Linked DNA regions of Homo sapiens. The protein of the gene in region 3 purifies or fractionates together with the protein of the main gene of each other region. This does not show direct contact. Each region holds a gene or a part of one and is shown on either strand. Other genes may lie near its edges. The genes, in order: ECH1, MTHFR, GCN1, NDUFA5, SAFB, INF2 and EPB41L1.

What was found.
Region 1: the proteins of GCN1 (region 3) and ECH1 purify together in Homo sapiens (co-immunoprecipitation; one large-scale study listed by IntAct). This does not show direct contact.
Region 2: the proteins of GCN1 (region 3) and MTHFR purify together in Homo sapiens (co-immunoprecipitation; one study listed by IntAct). This does not show direct contact.
Region 4: the proteins of GCN1 (region 3) and NDUFA5 fractionate together in Homo sapiens (co-fractionation; one large-scale study listed by BioGRID). This does not show direct contact.
Region 5: the proteins of GCN1 (region 3) and SAFB fractionate together in Homo sapiens (co-fractionation; one large-scale study listed by BioGRID). This does not show direct contact.
Region 6: the proteins of GCN1 (region 3) and INF2 fractionate together in Homo sapiens (co-fractionation; one large-scale study listed by BioGRID). This does not show direct contact.
Region 7: the proteins of GCN1 (region 3) and EPB41L1 fractionate together in Homo sapiens (co-fractionation; one large-scale study listed by BioGRID). This does not show direct contact.

The regions. Positions count from the first base shown.
Region 1 is NC_000019.10:38,818,218-38,822,328, reverse strand, and holds part of ECH1 (delta(3,5)-Delta(2,4)-dienoyl-CoA isomerase, mitochondrial precursor), read left to right. Parts: intron 1-4,111. UniProt on the Homo sapiens protein: Isomerization of 3-trans,5-cis-dienoyl-CoA to 2-trans,4-trans-dienoyl-CoA.
Region 2 is NC_000001.11:11,788,795-11,792,969, forward strand, and holds part of MTHFR (methylenetetrahydrofolate reductase (NADPH)), read right to left. Parts: intron 3,586-4,175; coding exon 3,484-3,585; intron 2,533-3,483; coding exon 2,413-2,532; intron 2,105-2,412; coding exon 1,886-2,104; coding exon of another isoform or gene 1,746-1,885; 3' UTR 666-1,745; coding exon of another isoform or gene 476-665; 3' UTR 250-475; coding exon of another isoform or gene 1-249. Other genes in the region: uncharacterized protein C1orf167, read left to right, coding at 1-249. UniProt on the Homo sapiens protein: Catalyzes the conversion of 5,10-methylenetetrahydrofolate to 5-methyltetrahydrofolate, a cosubstrate for homocysteine remethylation to methionine. Represents a key regulatory connection between the folate and methionine cycles.
Region 3 is NC_000012.12:120,131,829-120,136,003, reverse strand, and holds part of GCN1 (stalled ribosome sensor GCN1), read left to right. Parts: intron 1-1,277; coding exon 1,278-1,471; intron 1,472-1,598; coding exon 1,599-1,713; intron 1,714-3,981; coding exon 3,982-4,078; intron 4,079-4,175. UniProt on the Homo sapiens protein: Ribosome collision sensor that plays a key role in the RNF14-RNF25 translation quality control pathway, a pathway that takes place when a ribosome has stalled during translation, and which promotes ubiquitination and degradation of translation factors on stalled ribosomes.
Region 4 is NC_000007.14:123,547,681-123,551,855, forward strand, and holds part of NDUFA5 (NADH dehydrogenase [ubiquinone] 1 alpha subcomplex subunit 5), read right to left. Parts: exon of another isoform or gene 3,688-4,175; intron 2,907-3,687; coding exon 2,790-2,906; intron 1-2,789. UniProt on the Homo sapiens protein: Accessory subunit of the mitochondrial membrane respiratory chain NADH dehydrogenase (Complex I), that is believed not to be involved in catalysis. Complex I functions in the transfer of electrons from NADH to the respiratory chain.
Region 5 is NC_000019.10:5,650,267-5,654,441, reverse strand, and holds part of SAFB (scaffold attachment factor B1), read right to left. Parts: intron 3,465-4,175; coding exon 3,370-3,464; intron 1,328-3,369; coding exon 1,178-1,327; intron 1,105-1,177; coding exon 1,022-1,104; intron 382-1,021; coding exon 242-381; intron 75-241; coding exon 1-74. UniProt on the Homo sapiens protein: Binds to scaffold/matrix attachment region (S/MAR) DNA and forms a molecular assembly point to allow the formation of a 'transcriptosomal' complex (consisting of SR proteins and RNA polymerase II) coupling transcription and RNA processing.
Region 6 is NC_000014.9:104,709,731-104,713,905, reverse strand, and holds part of INF2 (inverted formin-2), read right to left. Parts: intron 3,819-4,175; coding exon 3,718-3,818; intron 2,970-3,717; coding exon 2,899-2,969; intron 2,828-2,898; coding exon 2,720-2,827; intron 2,278-2,719; coding exon 2,207-2,277; intron 1,474-2,206; coding exon 1,353-1,473; intron 1,079-1,352; coding exon 914-1,078; intron 700-913; coding exon 597-699; intron 462-596; coding exon 300-461; intron 1-299.
Region 7 is NC_000020.11:36,227,065-36,230,519, reverse strand, and holds part of EPB41L1 (band 4.1-like protein 1), read right to left. Parts: intron 1,189-3,455; coding exon 1,180-1,188; 3' UTR 1-1,179. UniProt on the Homo sapiens protein: May function to confer stability and plasticity to neuronal membrane via multiple interactions, including the spectrin-actin-based cytoskeleton, integral membrane channels and membrane-associated guanylate kinases.

The DNA.
Region 1 (4,111 bases), on a different chromosome or scaffold from region 3:
GCTAGATACAGAGTGCTGATTGGTGCATTTACAAACCTTGAGCTAGACACAGGGTGCTGATTGGTGCATTTACAAACCTTGAGCTAGACACAGAGTGCTGATTGGTTGTTTACAATCCCTTAGCTAGACATAAAGTTTCTCCAAGTCCCCACCAGATGAGCTAGACACAGAGCATTGATTGGTGCATTTACAAACCTTGAGCTAGACACAGGGTGCTGATTGGTGCATTTACAAACCTTGAGCTAGAAACAGAGTGCTGATTGGTGTATTTACAATCCCTTAGCTAGACATAAACGTTCTCCAAGTCCCCACCAGATTAGCTAGATACAGAGTGCTGATTGGTGCATTTACAGTCCCTCAGCTAGACATAAATGTTCTCCAAATCCCCACTAGACTCAGGAGCTCAGCTGGCTTCACCCAGTGGATCCTGCACCAGGGCCGCAGGCGGAGCACTCCTCAGCCCTTGGGCAGTTGATGGGACCAGGCGCCGCCGAGCAGGGGGTGGCGCTCCTCGGGGAGGCTCGGGCTGTGCAGGAGCCCACGGCGGCGGGGGGAGGCTCGGGCATGGCAGGCTGCAGGTCCCAAGCCCTGCCCCACAGGGAGGCAGCTGAGGCCCGGCAAGTATTCGAGTGCAGCACCAGCGGGCCGGCACTGCTGGGGGACCCGGTGTACCCTCCGCAGCTGCTGGCCCAGGTGCTAAGCCCCTCACTGCTCAGGGCAGGTGGCGCCGGCCCACCACTCCGAGTGCGGGGTCGCCGAGCTCACACCCACCCGGAACTTGCGCTGGCCGGAGAGCACTGCGTGCAGCCTGGGTTCCCGCCCGCGCCTCTCCCTCCACACCTCCCTGCAAGCAGAGGGAGCCGGCTCCGATCTTGGCCAGCCCAGAGAGGGGCTCCCATAGTGCAGCAGCAGGCTGAAGGGCTCCTCAAGCATGGCCAGAGTGGGCTCTGAGGCCAGCGAGCAAGGGCTGCCAGCATGCTGTCACCTCTCACTTCCTTCTCTCTCTCTTTCTTTCATTTTTGAGACAGGGTCTCCCTCTGTCACCCAGGCTGGAATGCAGTGGAGCAATCTCAGCTCACTGCAGCCTCCACCTCCTGAGCTCAACCCCTCCCACCTCAGCCCCTACCACCTCCCCTCATCCTCCCACTTCAGCCCCTCAAGTAGCTGGGACCACAGGTGTGCACCACCATGCACAGCAAGTTTTTTCACTTTTTGTAGAGGCAGGGCTTGCTATGTTGCCCAGGCTGGTCTCGAACCCCTGATCTAAAGCGATCCTCCTGCCTCAGCCTCCCAAAGTGCTGGGATCACAGGCATGAGCCACCGCACCCAGCCTCCTGCTTTCTTTCTGCATCTCCCTCTGTTCCTCCTCTTGTTCATTTGTTCATTCATTTGACAAACATTCAGTGACACAGTCCAGTGCCAGAGCCCCCTCCTGGGTGCTGCAGATGTGGAAACGGGAAGCAGCCCCGATTCCTGACCCCTTGCTCTCATAGAGATCATGTCTGAGAACAGAAAAATGGGGCTTTTTTGTGGCTGTGCCGGGCCCAGGTCCTTCATCTTTCAGCTCCCAGCTGAATGTGGCCGTCTTATCTTATTTTCAGCAGCAAGACCCCGAAGGCCAGAAGGAAGAAACGGCAGGTCATGCAGTGACCCAGTGATAGAGTAGAACTACTAATTAGAGAAAGAAAAAGGTGGCCACAATTATGTAGCACTCATGGTGTGTGACGCCCCTTTCTAAGCACGTTAAACATATTAATTCTAATCACAGTCCACAAGACAGGTTCTGCTATAAGCCCCATTTAAAGGTGAAACAGATCCAGAGAGCAAGAAACTTACCCAATAATCACAGCTTGTAAGTGGCAGAGCTGGGATTTTGGAACTCATGCTGCCTGGCTATAGAGTCCTTGCTCTTAGCTGCTAAATGTCTGTCATCTGAGTAGCTGGCATGCTGGTTAAAAGTAAGGGGGATTGCCGGGCGCCGTGGCTCACACCTGTAATCCCAGCACTTTGGGAGGCTGAGGCAGGCGGATCACGAGGTCAGGAAATGGAGACTATCCTGGCTAACACAGTGAAACCCCGTCTCTACTAAAAATGTAAAAAATTAGCCGGGCATGGTGGCAGGCGCCTGTAGTCCCAGCTACTAGGGAGGCTGAGGCAGGAGAATGGCGTGAACCCAGGAGGCGGAGCTTGCAGTGAGCCGAGATCGCGCCACTACACGCCAGCCTGGGCGATAGAGTGAGACTACATCTCAAAAAAAAAAAAAAAAAAAAAAAAAGTAAGGGGGACTTTGGCCTCAGGCTGTGATCTGGATCCTATTTCCACTTGTCTTTTCACCTCTCTGTCCTGCCATTTTCTTTTCTTTTTATTTTTTATTTTTGAGCCAGGGTCTTGCTCTGTCGCCCAGGCTGGAGTGCAGTGGCGCGATCATAGCTGACCGCAGCCTGCAACTCCTGGGCTCAAACGATCCGCCCACCTCAGCCTCCGAAAGTGCTGGGATTACAGGTGACCATGCCCAGCCTCATGTGCAGCTAATTTTTTCATTGTTTGTAGAGAAGAGGTCTTGCAATGTTGCCCAGGCTGTTCTCAAAATCTTAGCCTCAAGCCATCCTCCTGCCTCTGCCTTCCAAAGTGCTGGGATTGCAGGTGTGAGCCACTACGCCCAGCCCCAAAATATACTTTTTTATTCATTTGTTTGCCTCCCCATGAGGACAGGGACTGTTGTCTGTATTGATCATTTATTGAGCAGCTCGTGTGCGCCAGGCCCTGTGCTAGGCCCAGGGGATGCAGCAGTGGACAGAAAGACAAAAACTCCTGTGTTCTCAGAGCTCACATTCTAGAAAGGGAGTCAGACCCTCAAGCAGATAAGGACCTAATTATAGGATAGCAGCTGTGCAGCCCGGAGGTAAGGCGGGGTCAGGATGCGGGGGATGGGGCCATCGTTGAGCCAGGTTGGCCAGGGAGGGCCTCTCTAGGAGGTGACCTTTGAGCTATAGCTGAAGGAAGTGAAGGAGTCAGTCTGTGGCTGTTGAAGAGGGAGGGATGGTTGTCAGCCCAAAGGTCCTTGGCTCCCTCCCTCTCCTCTGGGTCTTTACTCAAGGTCACCTTCTCAATGAGAAGATTCTGTACCACTGCACAGCCCTCAGGCAGTGATCTGGATCCTATTTCCACTTGTCTTTTCACCTCTCTGTCCTGCCATTTTCTTTTCTTTTTATTTTTTATTTTTGAGCCAGGGTCTTGCTCTGTCGCCCAGGCTGGAGTGCAGTGGTGCGATCATAGCTGACCGCAGCCTCCAACTCCTGGGCTCAAATGCACGTGCCCGCACACACACACACACACACACACACACACACAGAGTTGGAGACCAGTGTGCCCAAAGTAACAGGTTGGGAACAGTGCACACACACACACACACACACACACACACACAGAGTTGGAGGCCAGTGTGCCCAAAGTAACAGGTTGGGAACAGTGTTCATGCAGGGTAGTCATGACAAGGACGTTCCATTTTGTTCTAAGAGCCACAGGTGGGAAAAAGAGGGTCTGGGCCGGGCACGGTGGCTCACGCCTGTAATCCCAGCACTTTGGGAGGCCGAGGTGGGTGGATCACAAGGTCAGGAGTTTGAGACTAGCCTGGCCAACATGGCAAAACCCCGTCTCTACTAAAAATACAAAAATTAGCCGGGCATGGTGGTGGGCGCCTGTAATCCCAGCTACTTGGGAGGCTGAGGTAGGAGAATCACTTGAACCGGGAGGCGGAGGTTGCATTGAGCCGAGATCCTGCCACTGCACTCCAGCCTGGGCGACAAGAGCGAGACTCTGTCTGAAATAAAAAAAATAAAATAAAAAAAAAGAGGATCTGACCCAAGAAGGTGTCCACTGGCTTCCCCTGGCTGCCTGTAGGGAATAGACTGGGGACACAGGTGGAAACAGGGAGAGCAGGGTGGGCTCATGGAGAACAACTGATGCAGGAAAGGTCAGATTCAGGATCATCTTGAAGTTGGAGCCACAGAAATTGCTGCATCGTGAGATGTTTCTCATCTCAGGAAACATCACCACCATTGACTGCATTGCTCACGCTGCAGACCTTGAGTCCCAGGCTGTCTGGCATCTT
Region 2 (4,175 bases), on a different chromosome or scaffold from region 3:
AGCCTTCCAGAAGTCTGTGCCACAGCCACGCACCGTGGAGCTTTCCCTGCTTGCCAGCCCCGGGGCCCCTTCGTTTTCAGGGGAGGGGGTCAGTTCCATTACAGAACACACAGGCTGGATGCTGGAGCCCTTGCTTTGATTTGTGGCCCCAGCTCAGGCCAGGCCCACCCGGTCCATCAGTTTGCGAAGAAGGTGTGGCATGAGGCATGGCTGCCACTCACACTAGCCCATGGAGGGCCTGGGTCCTGAGCGCCCCCTCCCTCATTTGCTCTGCTCTGAGTACAGCTTCCCAGCTCACCATCAGATCTATTCTGAGCTTGTGCATTTGGCCTAGGCAAGACTGGCTGGCTGCTTGGGGCAGAGGGAGGGGCCCTGGGGACAAAAGGAGCTGGGTACAGGGGTTGCTCTAGCAGGCACAGCACAGACCCCGGAGAAAGCCCACAACAATAGCATTTCCTCTCCTCCCTGGTTCCAGGCCTTTAAGAAGTGGCACCAACGCCTGGCAGCCAGGAGCCCAAGGAGAGGAGCTGCCAGTAGCCCAAGACCCTGGAGCAAGCCAGGCCCCAAGGGCCCCGAGAGTGGACAGGAAGCCGCCAGAGCACCGCGGGGTTGGGGGCTTGGGGCAGAGCATGGGGCCCAGCTGCAGCTGTGACTTGTTCTCATAGAATAAAAAACAGAACTGAACTTAGCCTTCCCAGGGAAGGAACCATGCCCCACACATCCAGGGAGTGATGACAGAGGGGACAGCTTGAAGAGCTCTGAAGGACAATAAAACCCACTCCTCAGTCCTAGCTGCTGCTTTCAGTCTCTCCTAGCGGCTGCCCCTCTGCCCCAGCCAGTGAGGCCAGGAAGGGAGTAAAGAGGACATCCCACAATTGCGTCCACCCCCTTGGCCATCAGGCTGCTCTTCCACTACACGAAACAGCCCATCTGCACCTGCCAGTCACTGCCCCCAGGCCCTGGGGCTTGCAGGTGACTCGTGGGGAGCCAGGCCAGGCAGATAACCTCTGGGACAGGACGAGGGGATGAGGAAGGCAGCTGGCAGGACAAGGGCCTACCTGAAAAATACACCAGGAAGCTGGGCTGCTGCACAGGCCCAGGCAGATCTGGGGCCCCTGTGCTGGCAAATCTCATCTTAGCCTCTGACAGGGAACGGGGCAGCATCAGGCCTCCACAGCCAGGCAAAAGGGGAAGGCCACGAGCCCCACCAAGCACAAGGGTTCAGACTGCCTTCAACCCTTAAGGGGCACTTTTTCTCTCAAGGCTCAGAATAGACAACTGTGCCAAAAAGCAGCATGGTAGGTGTCAGCCCAATGCCCATCCAGGGGGCTGGTGCCATGGACGGCTAAGTGGGCAGGCAGGGCAGTGGTGTGCCCCTTCAGTCACAAGTAGGTGGGGCCCAGCTGCCCACCTCTAGGAGGTGGAAGGGTACAGCACTTTGCCACATCTCTTCTACGATGCCACCAGTGCCTGATGCCCTTGCGTGTTTTGCCTGTACTGCACGGGCTCCAAGTGTAAGTTCACTGGGAGTCCCAGGCTGGCTCTGGAGGCTGCCTTGGTTCGAGGGCTTAGTTGGCAACAACCACTCTCCTCGCCTTCTCAGGAGGTGCCACCCACTGTGGTCCTCTGCAGGACGCAAGTGCTCCCCACCAAAAGAGCACAGACTCCTGGCTAGAGCAGAGAGTACTAGGTTCCCATGTGGGGCCGACTCAGGTCCAGGAAGAGCCTGGAAGCCTCACTCCAGTCTAGCTGCCATTGTCAGGTGGGGGAGTGGAGGCCGGGGTGGGAGAGACACGAAGGAGAGTGGAGTTCCCAAGAGAAGCAGCACTGTGGAGGAGGAAGGCGGGACAGGAGTGGCTCCAACGCAGGGCGTCAGGACGCAGGGTCATGGAGCCTCCGTTTCTCTCGCATTCTGGGTGGGCCTGTTGAGAAGCTCCAATGTGTCTTCCACCACCTGCCAGAGGCAGTTGTCCAGTGGGAAGTCATTGTCCACCAGGTTGACCAGGAAGTAGTTGTCGTGGATGTACTGGATGATGGTGCGGGACGGGGACTCCTCCTCATACAGCTTTCCCCACCGCTCAATCCACAGGGCAAAGGCCTCGTCCTACACACACATACCCCCGCACACACGCACACATGCACACACACACAGAGGCAAGATTAACAGGGCTCTCCAAGGGCTCTGCTCAACAGGACATTTCCCGGAATAGAACAAGGCCCACTGCCAGTATCACTTCCCACCCCTGCCCAGAAATAAACACCCTGCATCAGCAGTGACATGGGTGAGTCAGAGCTGGGTGTGCCCTGAAGGCTGGGTCCAGTGTGGCCTTCAGCACACGCTTGGGACTTGGTCCCAATCCCTCCCCACGGTTTTCCAGGTGGGCGGGGCAAGCTTGCCCCCGGCTCCTTTACCTTCCAGAACATGAAGCTGACGGGATCCACTACGGTGGGCTGGATGATCTCTCGCCCAGGGAAGATGCCCCAAGTGACAGCATTCGGCTGCAGTTCAGGGGCATTGGTGATGTTTTCACCCTGAGGGGATGTGGGGTGGGGGTAAGACCTGGGCCAAGAACAACTGGAGTCCCACTGCCTGGACAGCCTTGACTCAATGAGGCTGTCTGGGCTCAATACCCTCTGCCTGCGCCTCCACTCCCGGCCTCCACTCTCCCTGCGCCTCCACTCCCCTCTCCCTGTGCCTCCGCTCCTGGCCTCCTCTGCCTGCATCTGTGAATGATATCTCTCCCCACACAAGCCTGAACCTAGAGGCGTCCTGGCCACTTCCCCTCTCCTCCTTGAGCACCCCCTGCTCACTCTCTGATCCATTCCCTCTTGTCTAGCCCACCTCCAGGAGTGTGTTTGGCTTGGGTCACTCCAGGGGTCTCTTCACTGGCCTCCCCGGCTCTAGCCGTCCCCAATCTCTCTCATCCGTATGACTATCCACTGTGATTTGCCTAAAATAAAGCAGGAACCAAGCCACCCCACTGCTGGAGAAAGGCTTCCCTTGCATTGAGGGAAAACTCAAATTCCAGCAGGACAACCATGATCTCTGCGGGCCTGGCCCCTGCTTAACACTCCCGCCTCCTCCTGCTCATGTTCCCCGTTTCCCCAGATGGTGCAGCTCACTGCCTCTGCCTGTCCTCTGCCCTGTCCCAGGAATACCCTTCTCTCCTGTTGGCCAACTCCTCTTTGTCCTCAGTGATTCCCACAGATGACCCTCTGAGAAGCCTTCCCTGGCCTCCCAGGTGAGATATCCCTCCTCTGGACCCGACAGCATCCTCTCCTGAACTTGATTTTCCCACTTACACTGGCTGGTGGTCACACATTGATCTGCCTCCCTCACTCTAGGCTGGGAGCTCCTTAAGAGCAGGGCCCCAGTTCTGCCTGTATCTCTCTGTCTTGCACAATGCCTAGCCCAGGCTAGGTGCTGGGTGTTTGCTCAACGAAGGGCCTGGTACTCTGTGGGAACCCTGGGGCCTGGCCTACCTTCACATTGACAAGGTGGTAATTAACCCGGAGCTCGTACTTCTTCAGCACTTGCAGAAGTGCTTCCGCTGTCTCGCGGGAAGTGAAAAACTCTAAGTAGGCCTGTGGGAGAGACAGGTGCCTGTCACCAACCCCAGCCCTGCCAGACGCCCTTTCGCAGACACCTAAGGTATCAGGACTACTGGCAGCCATGTGGGCGGAATAATGAACTGTGGCGTTGGCACGTCCATAAGCAAAGGGTGAGGGGAGTGGGGACGTGAGTTTCTCAGTCTGGACAGGTCTGAGGGCTATCAGCCACCCCTCTCCCAATCAGTCAGGGAAGACTCCACGAAGAAGCCATTTCTGAACAGCAGCAACTGGTTTGACAGGCCGAGTCATGGGAGAGAGGCCCCACACATTCCATCCTCCCCAGTGCAAGCTGACAATGACATTGACATCTCCTCTAGAACCAGTGCCTATCAGGGATTAAGCTGGGTTTACTCAAACTCATTTGCTAGAATGCTGATAATACGGGAGGCTGGGCACAGTGAGCCCCACGTGAGGAAAGTGGGTTCAGGGAAGTTGAGCACGTTGGCTACTCTGACAGTAAACAGTAGAGCTGGTCCTTAAACTCAGGTCTTTCTGCTCCAGGGCCTGTGGGCCTTAGATCAGAACATAATGTTAACTCCAGCAGCCCTGGGAGAAAGGTGTCA
Region 3 (4,175 bases):
ACTCTGTCACCCAGAGCTGGAGTGCAGTGGCGCGATCTCGGCTCACTGCAACCTCCGCCTCCTGGGTTCAAGCAATTCTTCTGCCTCAGCCTCCCAAGTAGCTGGGATTACAGGTGTCTGCCACTACACCTGGCTAATTTTTTTGTATTTTTAGTAGAGACAGGGTTTCACCAGGCTGGTCTCGAACTCCTGACCTCGCACAGCTCAGATTTACCAGCTCCCCCTATCCCCTTTGTGTGCCTGCCACAGCCTGCACACCCACCCAACTCCAGTATTTCCAGACCTTCATTGGCACTGAACCTCCAAACAGTCACTCTGGTTTTCCTAATTAACAATAAGTAAGCCGGGCGTGGTGGCTCAAGCCTGTAATCCCAGCACTTTGGGAGGCCGAGGTGGGCAGATTACCTGAGGTCGGGAGTTCGAGACCAGCCTGACCAACATGGAGAAACCCTGTCTCTACTGAAAATACAAAATTAGCCGGGCATTGTGGCGGGTGCCTGTAATCCCAGCTACTCAGGAGGCTGAGGCAGGAGAATTGCTTAAACCCGGGAGGCGGAGGTTGCAGTGAGCTGAGATCGCGCCTTGCACTCCAGCCTGGGCAACAAGAGCGAAACTCCGTCTCAAAAAAAAAACAAAACAAAAAACAGTAAGTAAATCTTTACTCTTGGACCCACCTGTATTGTATCAAAAGTGTGCCTGTGTTTCTGTATAGTCAGGGGTTGAACTGGATTTTTAGTTAGGTGGGTACACATTTGTGCAGGGAGGATTCTCCAAGGTCATTTGTTTCACAGGCTTGTTCTGAGGGCTGAATGTGGAGTGCGTATCCTGCTGTCAGTTGCTCAGTAGATGGGCTCTGCAATTATACACTGAGTCCCTTTCCCTGTCTTGGCATTAGAACTGTGCTTCAGTACTGCCGATAGTCTGCCCTGCTTGTTAATGTATTCAGAGGAGGATTTGAGTCACTTATCGATATGGACAGGTCTCCACTAAGCCAAACCCCAACGCAGCCAAGGCTGCGAGACAGCTCCCTCAGATAGCGGCCGCCGCCTCCTCGGCCTCCTGCTCCTCCAGTGTATCAAAGCATGCTGGATATGACCAGGAGGCCAAGCGAAACCTGTCTGTGTTTGGCCTCTCTGACGGGCTATCTGTCCCCAGCCCTGTATGAGAGCTGGACTCGCTGTGGTGGTTTGGGATTGTCATTTGTTCTCATGCCTGTGGTACACTGTGGCTTTGGGTCTACCACAACTGTCTTTCATGGATGTGGGTTCCTCCCACAGGTTGGGATTGCCCTGAAGCCCTTCCTGCCCCAGCTGCAGACCACTTTCACCAAAGCCCTGCAGGACTCCAACCGGGGGGTGCGCCTGAAGGCCGCAGATGCTCTGGGGAAGCTCATTTCCATCCACATTAAGGTGGACCCCCTCTTCACAGAGCTGCTCAATGGCATCCGCGCCATGGAGGACCCAGGTGTCAGGTACGGCGCTGGCAAGGGAGCACTGTGGCCTCCAGGAGGCCAGGGGTTGCTGTGGGCCGAGCCTGCGCTGGCAGGAGGGGTGGTGGTGGAGGCACCCAGGGCTTAAGGCGGTGCATTGCTTCTGCAGGGACACCATGCTGCAGGCCCTGAGGTTTGTGATTCAGGGAGCAGGGGCCAAAGTGGATGCCGTCATCCGGAAAAACATCGTCTCACTCCTGCTGAGCATGCTGGGACACGATGAGGTACGGCTGCAGGCAGGACTAGTGGCAGCACTGGACCACTGGTTTCCCTCCTCCTCCTTAGGTTGAGTTCTTCACTTTGTGTTAGAACCAGTACAGCTCAGTAGTAATAAGCATTCCTGACATTTCTATCACCCTGTATGCTTCACCAACATTTCCTCGGGTTTCAAGGGAAACGGGGCAGGTATTGTGGATATATTGGTTATTTCCGTTTGTTTGTTTGTTTTTTGGCTGAGTCTTGCTGTGTCACCCAGGCCGGAGTGAAGTGGCACAATCTCGGCTCACTGCAGCCTCCGCCTCCTATCAAGCGATTCTCCTGCCTCGGTCTCCCGAGTAGCTGGGATTACAGGTGTCCGCCACCATACCCAGCTAATACTTGTACTTTTAGTAGAGATAGGGTTTCACCATGTTGGTCAGTCTGGTCTCAAACTCCTGACCTCAGGTGATCCACCCGCCTCGGGCTCCGAAAGTGCTGGGATTAACAGGCATGAGCCACCGCGCCCGGCCGGTTATTTCTATTTTATAGATGAGGCAAGTAAGCTTTGTAGAGACCCAGACCTCTCACCTATTTGCTCTCTGATCTTAAAGAAGTCACTTTCTCTGTCTGCCTCTCATTTCCACTTTTGTAAAATGAAGAGGTTTATTTATTGTTTTGTGAAACATTTGCCGAGCTAAAGGGCCTATCCCAGAGGTGCATAGACCTCGTGGTCACAGACCTCAAGAAACTTAGTGTGTAGTGGGATAAATGGTCTCCAGGGTGTGTCCCGGTGGCAAGTCTTAGAGGTCTATTTTCGAGGGTGAGACTTGTCTGGGCCATACCCAGCAAGTAGTAGAGTCCAAACCAGAAGCCCTGGACTCCTGGTTCTGTCCCAGTTCCATCAGCCTCACCTAGTCTGGAAGCATCTGTCAAATATTTGGCTGCGAGCACTGTGGGGCCAGTAGGGAGTTGAGTCTATGGAGAAGAGTTTTCTGTTCCCTTTTCAGACAGCCCTCTGTTGTGGTCTAATTTACTTTGTAGGGCCAATCTAGGAGGAGAGGGCCTTTGGGCTCACATGGTTTTACACGTCATTGACACACACACACACCCACACACACTCCTCCTGCCCACACCTGCAACACACACACTTGCTGCTGCACTTCCCATGGCTCCAAAGGCCTAGTTCTGGTCCCCAGGCGCCAGCTGTCGGACTCCAGCCCCAGCCTTCTCTGTGGGGACAGACAGGAAAGTCTGCTGTCTTGGTCACAGTCTTTCAGGGCTTCTACAGAGTCATGTGTACAGTGCAAGCAAAAGTTAGTATTGAAACATATTTGCATTTTACCACAGTGCAGCTTAAAATAGATGAAGTTGGAGAGAGTCGGTGTCAGAGCCAGCTTTAGCTTGGCACCTGGGCTTCTGCTTCGAGCTCAGAGGCCCAAACTGCTGGCAGTCCATTCTCTTACCCTCTGAACCTCCACTCAGATTGAAGGTGGCAGTTCAGGGTGCCAGCCTGGCATTAGCTTTTTGGGTTATTGAGTCCCTGGTTGGTGGTTTGTTTTGGGGACATGTTGAGTTGGCACCTGTAATAAGGAACATAACTTAAAATCCTCTCTTGGTATTCCATAGTTAGCTGGCCAGGGAGGAGCACGGAGCCGCTCGCGTACCTGGCTCTGATTTGAACAGGAAGTGCTTGCCTTTCCTTATCTTCCTTGGCTTGATTAGTGGCTTTAGTTTGACTTCCTAGGATGAACCCAAGTAATTTCGGTGGCAGTGGGGCACTCATGCAGTAGGGAGATAGCAGGAGTCATTCTGGCCACAAGATGACACAAACTCTGTGGGAGAAAGGAGCTCAGAGTGGCCGTCTCTAGCCGGCTTCCCTGGTGGCTGGGGGCAGGTGCCTCCCCTCCTGCCCCTCCCGCCCCTCCCTGCCTCACAGGGCTGTTGATAGTAATTGAGATAATAAATATGAAACATTCAGCCTTCCTAAGAAGAAAGATGCTATGTAAATACAGTTATTACTGCTATTACAAGGATGATTACCATATGCATACACACTGGGGTTTTCTATAATTAAGTGAAGTGCTGGCTGTGTAATGTTTAACTCCATACCAGTGGCAGCCCAATCTGGCAGGGGAGCACGAGTGCCTACAGGAAGGACTGGATCTTGAGTCTCTGAGTTGGCTTTTCCACCTTCTTTGTTGCTGTCCATCCTGGGCTCTAGAGCTGCCTGCCTTGGTTCCCACACAGCTGGTGTTGTTCCCTGCACCCCCTCACTCCCTTCTCTTCCCTGTCAGGACAACACTCGCATCTCCTCAGCCGGGTGCCTAGGGGAACTGTGTGCCTTTTTGACTGAAGAGGAGCTTAGTGCCGTTCTACAGCAGTGCTTGCTGGGTAAGTACACTGGAGAGTTCCCCTTCAGGGACCTGGGCCTCTCAGCCCTAGCGAAGAGTCGACGGGCATCTCCCTCCCTCCCTCAGAGGATCTTTTA
Region 4 (4,175 bases), on a different chromosome or scaffold from region 3:
AAGAGACTCAGGAGAGTGAAGGTAAAGAAGGCAAGGAAAGTTCAACGACACTTTCATTTCAGAAAAAGCCTGTGTTAGGTGAACAGTTCAAAATTTGTCTTACCGATAGTGAATAATGTGATTTTTAGTCACCAATGGCATAATGCTATTAAACTTGATAAGGTACCATGTACTGAATGCTCACTATATACTTGGGACTATGTTAAGCTTTTACGTGCATTACCTCATTCGGTTCTAACAAAAAGTGTTCGAGGTGGGTATTATTATACCCACGTTATAGATGATGAAATTGAGACCGAGAAAACTAGCAATATGCCAAGTCACTCCACAAATAAGTATTAGAACTAAGATGAAAATCTTGGACAGGGACACAAACAACGCTTTTCACCAAAATAGTACTATCTCCCTAGTAATAATCTGAAAAAAAAAGTTACTTTTATTTCCACCTTAGGCTTAGTAAATAGATATTTTATAATAATGGCAATATTCACTAAAGATTTTGTGTGTGGCTGTATGCAGGGTTAAAAATCTGTGATAATTTTACCAAAAACAGGAATCAGAGATACAACTGTTAAGTGTTTGGGGTTATATCTAGCCTTTGGGATAAAGACACATTTCTAAGGAACCTTATGTTCCAGGTACCATGCTAGAGTCTAAGGATACAAAGTTGAATCCAATATCATTAACAAGTAGCTTATGGCTGGTGGAGACATAATACAGCATGAAGGTACAATGGAAAGGAGGTAACAAAGTTGTCAAACTCTACTTAAGAAAGTAAGAAAAGGTTTCACAGAAGAAGTGATGATTTATGAAGAAAAAGTAAGAACTACCAAACAACGTAAAGGCATTCCAGGAAATGAGAAAATACAAATGAACACAAAAATAAAAATGCAAGGAATCCACAGAACTGCCAGCAGTTTGGTACTGCTTAAGTATAGAGTATAAAACAGGAAGCAACAGGATCAGATTGAGAAAATAACCAAGAGCCAGAACTTAGAAGGCCTTCTATACCATGTTTTTACCCTGTTAGGCCAGTGGTTCCCAAACATGGCCACACATCAAAATCATGCAGATAAAGGTAGCTAAGCAAGCTTCATACAACCAGCTCAACATAAATCCTTAAACTCAGCCTTTGAGAAACACTGAACAGAAAACCACAGTAAGATTTTAAGCAAGACAGCACAGTTGGCCCTCAGGATCTGCATCTGTGGATTCAACTAAGAATGGATTCAACCAACCACAGATGGAAAATATTCAAAAAAACACAATAAAAATAACAATACAGCAATTTTTAAAATACAGTATAACTACTTACACAGCATTACATTGTAGTATTATAAGTAACCTAGAGATGATTTAAAGTATACAAGAGGATGTGCATAGGTTATATGCAAATACTATGCCATTTTATATAAGGGACTTGAGCATCCTTGTATTTTGGCATCCATGGGAATCCTGGAACCAATCCCTCATGGATACCAAGGGACAACTGTACCATCACAAGATTTACATATTGAAAAAAAAATCAGTCTATTATTGGCTGTATGGTGGAGCATGTAATGAAGTATAATGGAAGTACAAACAGATCAATTAGTTATAAGGCAGTTTAAATAGCAGAGAAAAGGATTTTGGAACCAGTAAGTAAAGAAGTATGAGAGTAAACTCTTCTTTGGTTGAAACTGGCTATGGGAGAAAACAAAAATAGGACAATAAGTAAAGGAAAATACAAGCATACAGTTTTTTTTATTTTTAAGATAGGAACAAGCTAAAAACATTTGAGGCTATTTGAAAGATGATGATAAAATAGGTGAGGCACCGGGTGCAGGTAGCTCATGCCTGTGATCCCAGCACTTTGGAAGGCTAAGGCAGGAAGGTCACTTGAAGCCAGGAGCTTGAGATCAGCTAGGGCAACACAGTGAAACTCCGCCTCTACAAAAAATTTTAAAAATTAGCTGGGCATGATGGTGAGTGCCTGTGGTCTCAGCTACTTGGGAGGCTGAGGTAGGAGGATTGCTTGAGACTGGCAGGTCAAGGCTGCAGTGAGCTGTGATCGTGCCACTGCACTCTAGACTGGGTAACAGAGTGAGACCCATCATATAATACAATACAAAATACGATATAATACAAACTGCATTGTTTTGTTGCATACCTAACGAAAGATAGGAATTCTCTTTGAACTATATAGTCTGGTAATCTAATAAGAAGAAATATATGTGACTAGGATCACTTATGCATGTATATAAATTACCTTCAGAGTTTCTAAGCACTATTTTAGATAATTACATAAAGTCCATTTAATGATTGCTAGTGTGAAAATTTAACAATAGTACAATATAGTTTGGTATGAATCAGCAGTCTAGACTTTTATTAACTGCTACTTAATAACAGTCTAGTCTTTTTGACAGGTTTCTTTGAAAAAAAAATGCCCTTTTTTGTTTTGCTTTTATTGTTCTCTAAGATTAGAAAAAGGAGATCAAGATTGATATATCCAAGATAAAAAGCAAAAGATCAATAAAGGACTAAATAGTGAAGAGAGGTAAAAGGAACAGCTACAATGTTACTTCAAGGAAGGATCTGATCCTAGTCTCAAACTCCAGTATGTAACAGAGGCCTGCATATAGAAAACACTCAATAAACAAGAGTTTGCTGAATAAAAGGGAGGAATGATGGGAAAAGAGCATTCAAGGAAGGAGAATAGAAGAAAAGTGTGTCGAATATATAAAAAATAAGGAACTAAACTTTTTTGGTTAAATGTTACACAAGACAACAAAACTGACTTAGCTACTTACCGCTTTAACCATAGCCAGCTTCTCATTTGTAATCTGTTCTGTATACTTTCTATATGCTGCATTTTTAGGGATTTCCTCAAGAACATCAAGAATCTTTGTGTACAATATTCTTAGCCTCTGAAAAGACAAACCATACAAATTTCCATAGGTTAAAATATTACCAAAGACTTAATGGAACACTTGTCTCAAAGACAAAACAAACAAAACTCACATCTGTTTTTTTTTTTTGCTTTTTTTTTTTAATTTAACTCTTCTTTGCTCTGACTTCTTTATGTCTGTGCCCTATCTACACCCTTTATAACTTAGGAAAAACCTGTATATAAACATGGGAACATTCTGTATTTTCTGTGTATAACAAGTTCTAGATAAGTCAAAGGTATGATAACAAGTAGAAACAAAACTAACTTATTGCTAAGGACCTTTTGGGAAATCGAATCATTTACCAAATCAGTATTTTTCTTTCTTTCTTTCTTTTGAGACGAAGTTTCACTTGTTGCCCAGGCTGGAGTACAATGGCATGATCTTGGCTCATTGCAACCTCCACCTCCCAGGTTCAAGCGATTCTCCTGCCTCTGCCTCCACAGTAGCTAGGATTACAGGTGGCCGCCACCACGCCTGGCTAATTTTTGGTAGAGACGGGGTTTTGCCATGTTGGCCAGACTGGTCAGAAACAAAACAACTTATTGCTAATGACCTTTTTGGAAATCAAGTCATTTACTAAATCAGTATTTTTCTTTCTTTCTTTTTTTTTTTTTTGAAACGGAGTTTCGCTCTTATAGCCCAGGCTGGAGTACAATGGCGTGAACTTGGCTCACTACAACCTCCACCTCCTGGGGTCAAGTGATTCTCCTGCCTCAGCCTCCCAAGTAGCTGGGATTACAGGTACCCGCCACCATACCTGGCTATTTTTTCTATTTTTAGTAGAGACAGGGTTTTGCCATGTTGGCCAGGATGGTCTCAAACTCCTGACTTCAGGTGATCCGCCCACCTCAGCCTCCCAAAGTGCTGGGATTACAGGCGTGAGCCCACCCAGCCTGAATCAGTATTTTTCAAAGTGAGGTCCGAAGCACTGCAAATTTTTTTTTTTAATTTTTCTTATTTGAATTTCTGTAGAAATAAACACATATAATCATTACATCTGTATGATCAAATTTAACTAAATACGGTCATAATACTTCAGTGTTCTTGCTTCTGATTATGAATGAGTTACGACATAAAGTCTGCATAAAAGGCTCAACCGAAAAAGTAGCAAGAGAATTGAGTCAATGCATAGCATGTACTGAAGCACACTGAACTTAAACTTCAGTATAGAAATCAGTAAGAAGTTGATCCTCTCCAATTTAAATATATAATGCATATATTAGTTTTTAATATAGCATTTTAATT
Region 5 (4,175 bases), on a different chromosome or scaffold from region 3:
GGACGTTTTTACACTAATCACAGGCACCCCTTTGGATTTATCCATTACTACAGTCCGTTCGGTCCCTCGACTTCCTACAGAAAAGACGGGGAAAGTGTAAGTGGAAAACCAAGAATACCCAGATGAGAAAAACCCTCTGCAACATGAATCCAGTTTCCGTTGCCAGCTAATCACAGCAAACTAACAAACTCCACTAGGCACAGAAACAAGACAGAATCTCCTGGGCTCATGAGCTGCCCACCTGACTTTGTGGCTCGAGATCGCTCTGAGGGGCCAGGTTTCTGATCATCTTGGTCCTTACTCTTTTCTCCACTTCCGTCGTCACCCTTCTTAGCATCATCTTTTCTGTCACATTTATCATCCCTCTTAAGGTTTGTAGATCTATAAAAAACAGACATGTTGGCTGGGCGTGGTGGCTCATGCCTGTATTCCCAGCACTTTGGGGGGATGAGGCGGGCGGATCACATGAGACCGGGAGTTCGAGACCAGCCTGGCCAACATGGTGAAACCCCATCTCTACTAAAACCACAAATGGGCATGGCTATAATCCAAGCAAATCGGGAGGCTGAGGCATGAGAATTGGTTGAGCCAGGGAGGTGGAGGTTCAATGAAAAGAGATCTTGCCACTGCACACCAGCCTGGGCAACAGAGTGAGATTCTGTTTAAAACACCCTGCCCCGGCCAGGCATGGTGGCTCACGCCTGTAATCCGAGCACTTTGGGAGGCCGAGGCAGGCGGATCACAAGGTCAGGAGTTCAAGACCAGCCTGGCCAATATGGTGAAACCCCATCTCTACTGAAAATACAAAAATTAGCCGGGTGTGGTGGTGCACACCTTAGTCCCAGATACTCAGGAGGCTGAGGCAGGAGAATTGCTTGAACCCAGGAGGTGGAGTTGAGGTGAGCCGAGATCACACCACTGCACTCCAGTCTGGGCGACAGAGCGCGACTCCATCTCAAAAACAAAACAACAACAACAAAAAACACCCTGCCCCTTTAATTTAGCCAGGAAGGAGGGGTACCTGTCACTGTTGCTCGACTTCTCCTTTTTCCCGTCACTGTCTCTTTTGTCAGAGGTTTTCTTTCCCACAGGTTCATTTTTGGCCTGAAAAAGAGAATCAAGTATTACCCCCATTTCCTAATGTGGGCTATATCCTGGGAAGAAAACGGCCACTCACTTTCTCCACGGAGATCATCTTTCCGTGGAGCTCCGTCTTGTGCAGGTGGTTAATGCATTTTGTGGCCTCTTCTGCTGTGGACATCGTGACAAAACCGTAACAGCGAGCTCCAGGACTCCGGGCATTTGTCACAACCTTGGCGCCCACCACCTCAAAGGAAAGCAGGCAAATATGACTCAGACATGAAGCCCACTGAGCGGGGCATGGGGATATGAACACCCCACAGGGAAGTCTGCTCATCAGGGGTCCGACAAGTGTTAGACTGGGGAGGACAATGCTACTAATGCTTCTGTTTCGCTGTTGTTCCTCCAAGGACCTCTGGCCAGTTCTAATCGCTCATCTAGTTCCTCAAGGGGGCCAGGAGGGCAATGTAGGGGAACAGACGAAAGGGAAATCAAACAGGGTTCTGCCAGTGTTCCTTTAATATGGTCTAAAACTTGTGAAGAAATGATTCCAAATATACAGTCATGCTACGTAGGTGGTAAATTATGAAGTGATGTAATGTGGGCAAAAAAAGAAAAAAGAAAAAAAAAAGACTTCGGCACAGACTGATGCAAGGAAAGGTCTGTGAGCCGTGCTCTGGAACTCAGATCTGCCCTATCATTGACTGTAACAAAACGCAGTGATGTGTTTCAGTTACTGTAGACACATCCTTTCCAGTCTACCTGGTTTTCTCGACTCCAGCAGGATGCAGTTAGGGTCGCCCTTTGACGGCAGAAGACACCATGGCTCAGGAAAAGCCCTGCAGCAGCCAGTGGCCGAGGCTGGTAATCATGCTCATCATGCCACATGGAATCCTAGTCCCAGAGGACATTCTCAGAGAGGCCCGGTCCTCTAATTAACCCACATCAGGCCTGCTGCGCTCAAGACACTACAGTCTCCAGGGCAACACTTCCCCACTGAGCACACCCACCCGCTGGGGGACGCCATGGAGTCAGGAAAGGGGGTCTAGTAGGGGAGACTTGGCGCAGGTGTTGCCAGCCACACACCTTGTATCACTGAGGCTCAAGAAGCCCTTAGTTATGTCCGTAATAATGACATAATTAGTTTTATCCTTTTTTTTTTTCTTTTTTTAAGATGGAGTCTTGCTCTGTCCCAGGCTGGAGTGCAGTGGCACGGTCTCGGGTCACTGCAACCTCCACCTCCTGGGTTCAAGTTGTTATCCTGCCTTAGCGTCCCAAGTACCTGGGATTACAGGCATGCGCCACCACGCCCGGCTAATTTCTGTACTTTTAGCAGAGACAGGCTTCACCATACTGGCCAAGCTGGTCTCAAACTCCTGACCTCGTGATCCACCCACCTCGGCCTCCCAAAGTGCTGGAATTACAGGCGTGAGCCACCACACCCAGCCTGTTTTATCCTCTTTTAAGTTCTTCGAAGTCAGTATCAGGGAAAACACTTGGTTTTCTATATTGCAATGTGTTGAACCCTCACTGTGTAACACAAAGGATTGGACTCCTTCCTTTGGTAGTCCCCGAAACCGACTCTGAGAGAGACGAGGAGCCCTGAATGCAGGAGGCTGTTTGGGAGGCAAGTCTGGGAAACACCAGGGAGGAAGGGAGTGAGAAAGCACAGGGAGGAGGGCCAGGCGGCTGCGCTGGGCACTGCAGGTAGGGGGCTGGTGCCACCAGCCCCACCTTCACGGGCTCAGGAAAGGCAGGTGCTGCAGACAAGAGGCCACTAGAACTGCCCCCAGTGGTGAACTGAGGCAGCAACTTTGAGAGCCCCCAGCTGCTGAGGTGAGGTTCAGTCAATGGACCCAAGACACCCGTGGTGAGGACCCCTATCATCAGACTCCAGGGTCCCTGTTCTGAGTTCTGAGTTCCAGCATCACGAACACTGTTCTAAGAACACTGCTGTCTCCCAGACATGCTGACCAGCACCCCACCAGCCAACCCTGGCAGCCCAGCCTGAGTGCGACGTCCTGAGGACACAGAAATGGATCCACGAGCCATCACAGGGAAGGGGGCAAGCTCGCAGAGAAGGGAGGGAAATACAGTGGTGATGTGGGCTCTGGAAGCTTCCACACCACTCTCACCTCTACCTGTGGACGGGCAGACCCTCCCCAGCCATTAGCAAGTGTAAGCTCCTTGGTATCTCTCAAAGAACTCACTGAGGGGAGAGGACCTCCATGTAAAGGCCACACAACGCTGGTTTCAAAGTATCTTCTCCAGAAAAGCTCTGGCACTTACCTTCCCATATTTGCTGAAAAGATTCTTCAAATCTGTAGCTCTGGTTGTAGAAGAGAGTCCACTAACCCAGAAATTTCTACCACAACTGCTGCGACCTATTTCAAAAGAAAATTCTAGTAAAAACCCAAATACCCACAAGATCTTGAGTCTTAGAGACAACCTTTCCAAAAGAGACATGGTTCCCATTTTTCCTGAGGCAGTGGCAGCACTAAAAGCCAAATGGGGCTGTGGGCCTGACCACTATCCTCACCAAGAGCCTCCAGTGCAACACCAGGCCCAGCAGCACTACCACAGGGCCCGTCACAATACTGAGTGGGGCTATTGGGACAATGTGAGGTTTCCTAAGAAAGTTAGCAATTGCGGGCCGGGTGTGGTGGCTCACGCCTGTAATCCCAGCACTTTGGGAGGCTGAGGTGGGCGAATCACGAGGTCAAGAGTTCGAGACCAGCCTGGCCAACATGGTGAAACCCCATGTCTACTAAAAATACAAAAAATCAGCTGGGTGTGGTGGCGGGCGCTTATAATCCCAGCTACTCAGGAGGCTGAGGCAGGAGAATCTCTAGAACCCGGGAGTCAGAGGTTGCAGTGAGCTGAGATCGCGCCACTGCACTCCAGCCTGGGCAACAGAACAAGACTCTGTCTCAAAAAAAGTTAGCGATCGCTTAATTACAGGAGGAAGTGCAGTGTGCAACGGCCATGTAGCAGAACAGTCAACCTTGGTGTCAACAATGCACTGTTTCTCTTTCCACGTATAGCTCTGTATCTATCCCATGTTTTTACTCCTTTAGAACACTGATTAAGAAGGA
Region 6 (4,175 bases), on a different chromosome or scaffold from region 3:
GCCCAAGGGCATCGGTCAGTGGGCCTGGCCTCATCTCTCTGGAGCCCAGCGGGCTGGACTGCTGCTTCAGCACTGAGGGCAGGGCCTGCGGTTACAGTGGAGGAGCTGGAGTGAGTGGAGGGAGGGATGAGGGCTGAGCGGCCACCACCTGTCCCCTCGGCTGTCCCCAGTCTTAGGGGCCTCCAGGGTGGCCCAGGGAGAGGAGAGGGCTTTCCAGTGAAGTCAGGAGGACTTCCTGGAGGCACAGGGTAGGGACAGTGGCAAGGGGACCATGAGGAGGCAGTGGGAGAGGGTCTTACCAGGCTCTGTGGCTCTTGGGGGATCCATGGAGGCTGCCTTGCTGCCCCCGTCGGTGTCCCCGCGGCCCCGGGCTGTCTTCCGCAGCTGGAAGCCCTTCCTGATGTCAGCCAGCAGGGCATCGATGACACACACCTCCTCCTGCTTCCCGGGCCCCTTCCTGACTGAGGAGCGTGGGGCACTCAGAGAGCGGCATGGGACCCTGGAGCCCACCTAGAGGGCTGGGGGTGGTGGGGAGGCTGGAGCACAGACAAGGATCCCAGAGTCACCCCCTCCCCGCCCAGCCGGCCCAGCCTCACCAGGCTTCCCGTCCTCTCCCCGAGGCCGCCGCGCCTCCTCCTCCGCCAGCTGCTGCTTCCTCCTCTCTGCCTTCGCCGCCTGCTCCTTCCGGTCCTTGTTCTCCTGCACTGGCAGATGTGGCCCCGTCACCCCAGCGTGGCATCCCTCAGGGGCTCCATGGGCCTGGGCGTCCCCCTCCCTGAGCCGCAGCAGCGCAGGGCCCACATGGCTGTGTCGGCCCGACGAAAGGTGCCTCTGCCCATCCTGCCGGAGGAAGGCCAGGGGCCTCGGGACCCCACTCTAGCCAGACAGGCTGTGTCCCGCCGGGCTGCCCCACCTTCAGGGCGCGGAGGAAAAGGTCCCGGAAAGCCTTCATGGTGCTGAACGTGTCCTCCAGGGACAGCTGCTGGGCGTCCTCACACAGGTAGTCGGCCAGCTCCCGTTGCTTCTGCTCGATGGCCTCAAACAGCTCATCCAGTGCCCGGAAGGCCGAGATGCTGGCCTGGGGGCAAGGGCACGTGACAGTCCCGTGAGAGCCCCGCGCGGGCACCACCCGGGGTGAGGCCCTGAGTTGCGGGAGGGTGACGGCCACAGGGACAGGCCCTGAGGACGGTGGTCTCTGACAAGGAGCAGGGGCCTGTGCCCTGACCATGCACACCTGGGGAAACTCGGGCCCCAGGATCCACCCTGGAGCCAGGAGACAGCACAGCCACTCGCCCAGCTCACTCTATCAGGGCAGCCTCTCCCGCCAGCCCCAGGCCCAGGTGCCCACTTGCCTGGAGGCGCTCGGTGTACTGCTCCTGGACCTCGGCCACGGAGGCAGACACCTTCCGCTCGGTCTCCAGAAGCTTCTTCAGGTTGGAGCTGGCCTCTGAGCGGATGATCTCCAGGTTGATCCTGAAAGGTGAGGAGGGCCGGGCAGAGACAGCAACGGCTGACGTCAGCCTCGCTGGGACAGGGGAGCCCCTCCCCTGCACCCCCCGGCACCCCACTGTGCACCCTGCAGGCTGTACTCTGAGGCTGCACGTGCAGTGTTGGGGTTGAGTGCCTGTTCCAGCTGACCCTCAGCCCCCTGTGAGCATCTGGGCGGGGACCCTAACGGTCAGCCTGTCCTGCTTGCCTAGTTCTCCCCAAGGCTGAGCAGCTCCTGAGCCAGAGAACCTTCCAGGGCAGGTGGAGCCCGGGAAGAACTCCGTGCTAGGGGCCCGGACTGTGTAGTGGGGTGGCCCAGGCTGCCCTCCTGCCTGGGTTGTGTGACCCAGGAGGTGACACTGCTTTCCTGGGCCTCCGTTTCCTCATCTATACAATGAGGGAGGCCCGAGCCTGCTCACGGCTGTCGTGAAGGTCCACCTTGTGAAGGGGCTGTATTAGACCTGCCCGTGGTGTGACCCTGACCTGGCCAGCCCTTGCCCACTCTAGGCCTGTTTCCTCGCTTAAGTCAGAAGGGGATAGGCCACGGCAGACCCGGTCCTGTCCCAAAAGGGAAGTGTTCTATTGGGCAGGGCTCCGTGGCGCCGGGGCTGCGCTGCAGCTGTGAGACCCAGCCCTGGCGGGCAGCCACCTCACTGCCTGGGGACAGAAGTCAGGCCCCCACCTGGCTGAGGTGGGCGGGCTGGCAGGAGCTACCTACCCTGCTGCTTGCGAGGGCTGTTCCAGGTCCCGGGGCAGCTGCAGGAGGTCGGGGTGGCTCTTTTCCGCTTCCTGCAATGGGACACGTCCAGTGAGATCCACTGTGGTCATACTCTCCACCTGGGGATGACCCTGTTCCCACTCCCCCAGCTCTAACCCTTAGCAATTAAGGTCCAGAAAACCCCCAGTACTCCAGACCCTCAAATCTTTCCCTTGGGCCTGGCTATGACTTTGTGATGTTTCTGCTTTTCCTAGGGACTGTCCCCCAGATCAGGGACAGGTATCCTGGGGAGGGACAAGGCTCGTGCAGGGGAGCCAGTGCTGCAGGAAGGAAGGGGTGCTGGGAGGGGTGGGGGCGTGGCTCTGACTGAGGCTGCTGGCTCTAGACGGAGCCCTGAGACAGGGAGACCGGCGGCCTGAGTGGTGGGCATGGGGGTATGGCCTCTACGCCTCTACACCCCAGGTCCGGGGGGACTTGAAGCCCTCCCATTATGCCCCCGCCACCACGGCCCACCTCCAGCACGTGGTGCAGCAGCGTCACGCGGTTCTGCTGGGACTTGGTCTCCGTGAGCTTCAGCAATGTGCTGATCTTGAAGCCGTCGGCGTCACCGGTGTGGCTGCCCTGGGAGGGGCAGGGAGTGAGTCTCACCAGCCCCTGGCACCAGGTGGGATGGGGAGCTGCCCCTGACTTACGTAGTTGAGGAAGTTCCCAATTCTCAGGATCAGCTGGCAGAAGATGGGCAGCTGGCGGCTGGTGAGCAGGCCTGCAGGGGCAGCCAGGGCTGGAGAGGGGCTCTTGGTTCGGAGCCCCCAGATGCCCTGGCGGTGGGGTGTGGTCCTGCTTGCCAGTGCCCCTGCACTCCCTGGCTCCTCCCCAGGCTCAGCCCAGCACCGGAAGGATCACAGGACAGGGCCTGGGGGCTGCAAACCCTCCACCGACGGGAGTGGACACCTACAGTGTGCCTGACAGACGTGAGCTGTGCCTCACTGGTCCGTACCTGTCCCTCTCCCTGCCCAGTGGCTGTGGCAGGTCCCCATGGATTCCCCTTTCAGAGATGGTGCCCGTGTGTGTGCACTTATGTCTGTACATGTATGTGAGGGTGTGTGTGTTGGGGGGGTGTGTACGTGTGTCTGTGTGTCCTGTGTGCATGTGTGTGACTGTGCTTGTGGGCTTGTGTGTGTGCACGTGCCCGAGTGGCGGTGTGCATGCGTGTGTGCACGTGCCTGAGTGGCGGTGTGCTTGTGTGTGCGCGTGCCGGAGAGTGGCAGTGTGCTTGTGTGTGTGCACGTGCCCGAGTGGCGGTGGGCATGCGTGTGTCTGTGCGTCCAGTAGGTGTGTGCACCGAGGTGGTGGCAGCAGGGTGGTTTCCGGAGTGGTGGTGAAGGCTGGCACCCTTAGGTGCTCTTAGCAGCCATTATGATACTGGCAGTAGCAGGGGCCCCGAGCAGCCCTCCCGCCCCGGTTCGGAGGCCTGTCCCTCCTGCACACGTGCCCCGCTTGGCCCCACTCACTTTCGCAGGCAGCCAGCACCAGCTGGGCCTTGGGCCGCACCATGTCCAGCACGGCGGCCGCGCCCTCACACAGCAGCATGCACTCGATTCGCAGCTGGTAGCTGGGGATGGCACAGACAGGGATCAGTGGCCTGCACCCCCCACCTGTCCCTGCCAGAGGGGCACTCAGCACAGGGCTCTGGCTTGGGTGGTGGGCAAAGGGAGGGGGTTTCCACCGCCTGCCCCATCCAACAGGCACCCTCCCGGGCCTGCGCAGAGCAGGATCCAATTCCTCCAGAGGCCTCCAGCCCCACACTTTGAGGGGAAGGACTGGGGGTGGGGCTCGAGTGATGTTTAGAAGCCCAACCGCTGCAATGCTGCTCCTGGAGCCCGGGGCAGCCATTGGCACAGCCTCTTCTCCTCCCTGGCTGGGCCCTGCTCCCTATTCCTGCTCTCCTCCCACCTGGGGCCCAGGCCCT
Region 7 (3,455 bases), on a different chromosome or scaffold from region 3:
TCCCCACCAATCAACCAATTACAAACACCACACACAGTATTACTACACTGAACCCGTCAGCCCCTACTGTGAGCCAACCCACACCCAGAGTCCAGGTCTCCTTAGCTGGGCCAGTTCAGTGAGATCTAGGAACCTCAGGATACATCAATCACAGTCAGATAATTATAATTTTAGAATGTCAGCTTCATACTTACCAGCACTGTTTATTTTAATATTTTTTCCTGTTATATGTAATATACATAACTTCAAAGCACATCCGTACAAACCTCCTACAAGCTGCACCTTCATAATGAGAAACCATAAGCATACAATGTCTACTTCCCTTCCTGTGGCTTCGTTTTCTGTTCTTGCTTTCTTTTCTTTTTCTCATTTCAAAGGAGAGTCATCTGCAGTGGCCCTCAGAAGGACCAGGACACAGAGGGTGAAGGGTGTGGGGTGGGGGAAGGGGGAAGGGGGAGGAGGGAGCCGAGACAGAAAATGACAGCAAGACATTGAGAGTTGAGGGTGAGGGGAGGCGGGAGAGAGGAAGGTAGGTTTTGCAGCCCAGTGTCAAGATCCAGAAAGTAAGAATCCAGTGTTCCTCCTCTTTCTTTCCAAGTGGGGAATTTTCTTTTTTTCTCGGAAAATGGTTGACTGTGCGTGTCTTGCTGCTGTGACTTCTCTTGCTTTGCTGTGCAAGTGTTTTCCTTTGCATTCAAGTGGGCCTTAGAGATGCTGGAGAAGAACAAATGGAATTGCTCGTCTGCTAACTGTAACGTGCAGAACCAGGGCGGGAGGGACTTCTACAATCATCGTGGTCTGGCTTGCGTTTCTTATTTGGCGGGGGAAAGGGGTGAGCAAGGGATTATAGTTATTATATAATTTTTTTTCTTGAAAAAAATCCCACCAGTTCTTCAATTTGTCTGCAAAGGAAATGTAGGTGTTCAGATGTCGGTTGTTGCTGTCAGCCAACTGCTCTGCCAGCCCCAGCAGCAGTGCAAGGATGCGGTGTTTCCTGTATATATATCTATATCTCTATATATCTATATATATATGCTTTTCCCTTCCCAGTCTCTCATCAGTGACAGTACGTCGCAGCTGGGACGTCAGTGTTGCGTCGGAGAATCCAGAATGAAGGCCCCTTCTTAATGGTTCTCTGGCTTGGGTTGGACCAGAAATGCCAGGATCTCTTCACAGAGGTCAGGATTCCTGGAAGCCAGAGGCATGGGGTAGAATGGGGGGTGGGGAGTGGGGGGAAAGGAAGGAAGAGGACAAGAAAAATTAGTAACTTCTGTCACTTGTTTTAAAATACATGGCAAGAGGTTGTTTTTGCTACCCTTTACCATATGCCCTTTATTGTGACTCAGCAAGGTAGAGTGACTTGCACCTGTAATCCCAGCTACTTGGGAGGCTGAGGTGGAAGGATCTCTTGAGGTGAGAAACTCAAGGCTGTAATGTGTAATCATCATGCCTGTGAGTAGCTATTGCACTCCAAGGCCACGCAGCTTGTGTGTGGCAGCAGAGAACCGAACCCACATCTGTTGGATTCCAGAGCCCATGTGTGTTTGCTCGCTTGTTTCCAGGGAGGTGGTAATCTTTTACTTTGGCCTGACAATGTGTTAAAATGTCCTTTAACACCGAGAAGCTAAGATCATCATCATTTTACTTTTTCTTCCTATCTTGTCAGCTCTAAGAAATGTTTAGTCACGATTGCAGATGTTCTTTTTTCATTTGGTTTTCCTTTCTGTTGTCCGTGGGCTTGCTGTGTCCTGGAGATTAAACCACAGACAGCAGTGTTTAAATAAAGAAATGAAGTCTGGATTCCAGGTTTGGCTCCAAAACTCAGTGTTTAAAGGAGCAGGCTCTGAAATCAGACTCCCTGAGTTCAAATCCCACTCTATGGGCCTGCTAGCTCTGTAATCTTGGGTGAGTTTCTTAACTTCCTTTACTTTAAACAGTTTTTAACAGACGAGTCTTACTATGTTGCTCAGGCTGGAGTGCAATAGCTATTCACAGGCACAATCAATGCACATTACAGCCTTGAATTCCTGGCTGCAAGTGATCCTTCTGCCTCAGCCTCCCAAGTAGCTGGGATTACAGGTGCACGCCACAGTGCCTGGCAAGTTTCTTAACTTCTTTAAGCCTCAATTGCTTCCTCCGTAAAATAGGTTCTGCCTCCCATTATAGGGAGGAACTGAAGCAAGGGCCCAGCATATAGTAAGTGCTGAATAAATACTGGCTGTTCTTATTATGATGATTGTTGCTGTTGTTAATTTAACCACACACTACTCTGATCTCCTTGAGGGTAAGGGCTATCTTTTAACTCTTGTCTTTCCAGTGTTCAACACTGTGCCTGGCACATAGCAACTACTCAAAACCATTTAATGGATGAAACATCATTTCTGCTACTTGCATGCAGTCGAGTGCTAACGGAATCACAGAAAATGGATCTTTCTTGGCTCATTTGACACATAGGAAAACCGAGGCCCAGAGGCTTCAGGCTTAGTAAGTTGGCAAAACCAAGACTAAAACCCAAGGTTCCTGTTTTGGAACAGGTCAATTTTTTCCCATTAAATTTTGGAAGGTTAGGAAGCTAGGCAAGTGCTGCCCTCTTGCTGGTGGTGTTTGGGAGACAGGTCCTCTCTGAAGGAGGTGGGCCAGTGGGAGAAGATGGAGCAGAAACCAGACGTCTGACCTGCAAGGTTGCAGGGAGAGAAGGGAAAAGGTTCTGTGTGACATGAGTGACTTTCCACGCTCATAGCAAGAACTTCAAGAAGGAAGAACTTTAAGAAGGAAGACAGAGTTAACTGAAGCAGGGACAGATGTTTCTGGAGGATTTGCAGAAGGAACAGAAGATGAAGACCAGTAAGACAAACACCCTCATGGAGACAGGGCCTCAGGCACCAGGCTGGTGGTGGAGAATTACGATCTGACTTTCTCAGTACTCTCATCAACCTCTAAACATGGAAAAACCTCAGAGGGACAAGGAAGCAGGTTCACCTTGCTGAGCCCCTTCTGTAGGCAAGACACAGATCCAGTATATCACAGGTGTTGTTTAGTTATTACAGCAACTCCAATGTATACATTAATGACATTTTGCAGATGAGGAAACTGAGGTCAGAGAGGTTCCTCTGGGCACACAGCTACCAAGGTGTTTCTAGCTCCAAAACCTAGTTGTATCCATCTATTCCTTCCTTCCTTCGTTTCGTTTTTTGTTTTTTGTTTTTTACAGGGTCTTGCTCTATTGCCAGGCTGGAGTGCAGTGGCGCGATCATAGCTCATTGCAGCCTGGACCTCCTGGACTCAAGCAATCCTCCCGCTTCAACTTCCCAAGTAGCTGGGACTACAGGTGCCAGCCACCACACCCAGTTAATCTTTTACATTTTTTATAGAAACGAAGGTCTCATTATGATGGCCAGGCTGGTCTTGAACCCCTGGGCTCAAGTAATCCTCCTGCTTCAGCCTCCCAAAGTGCT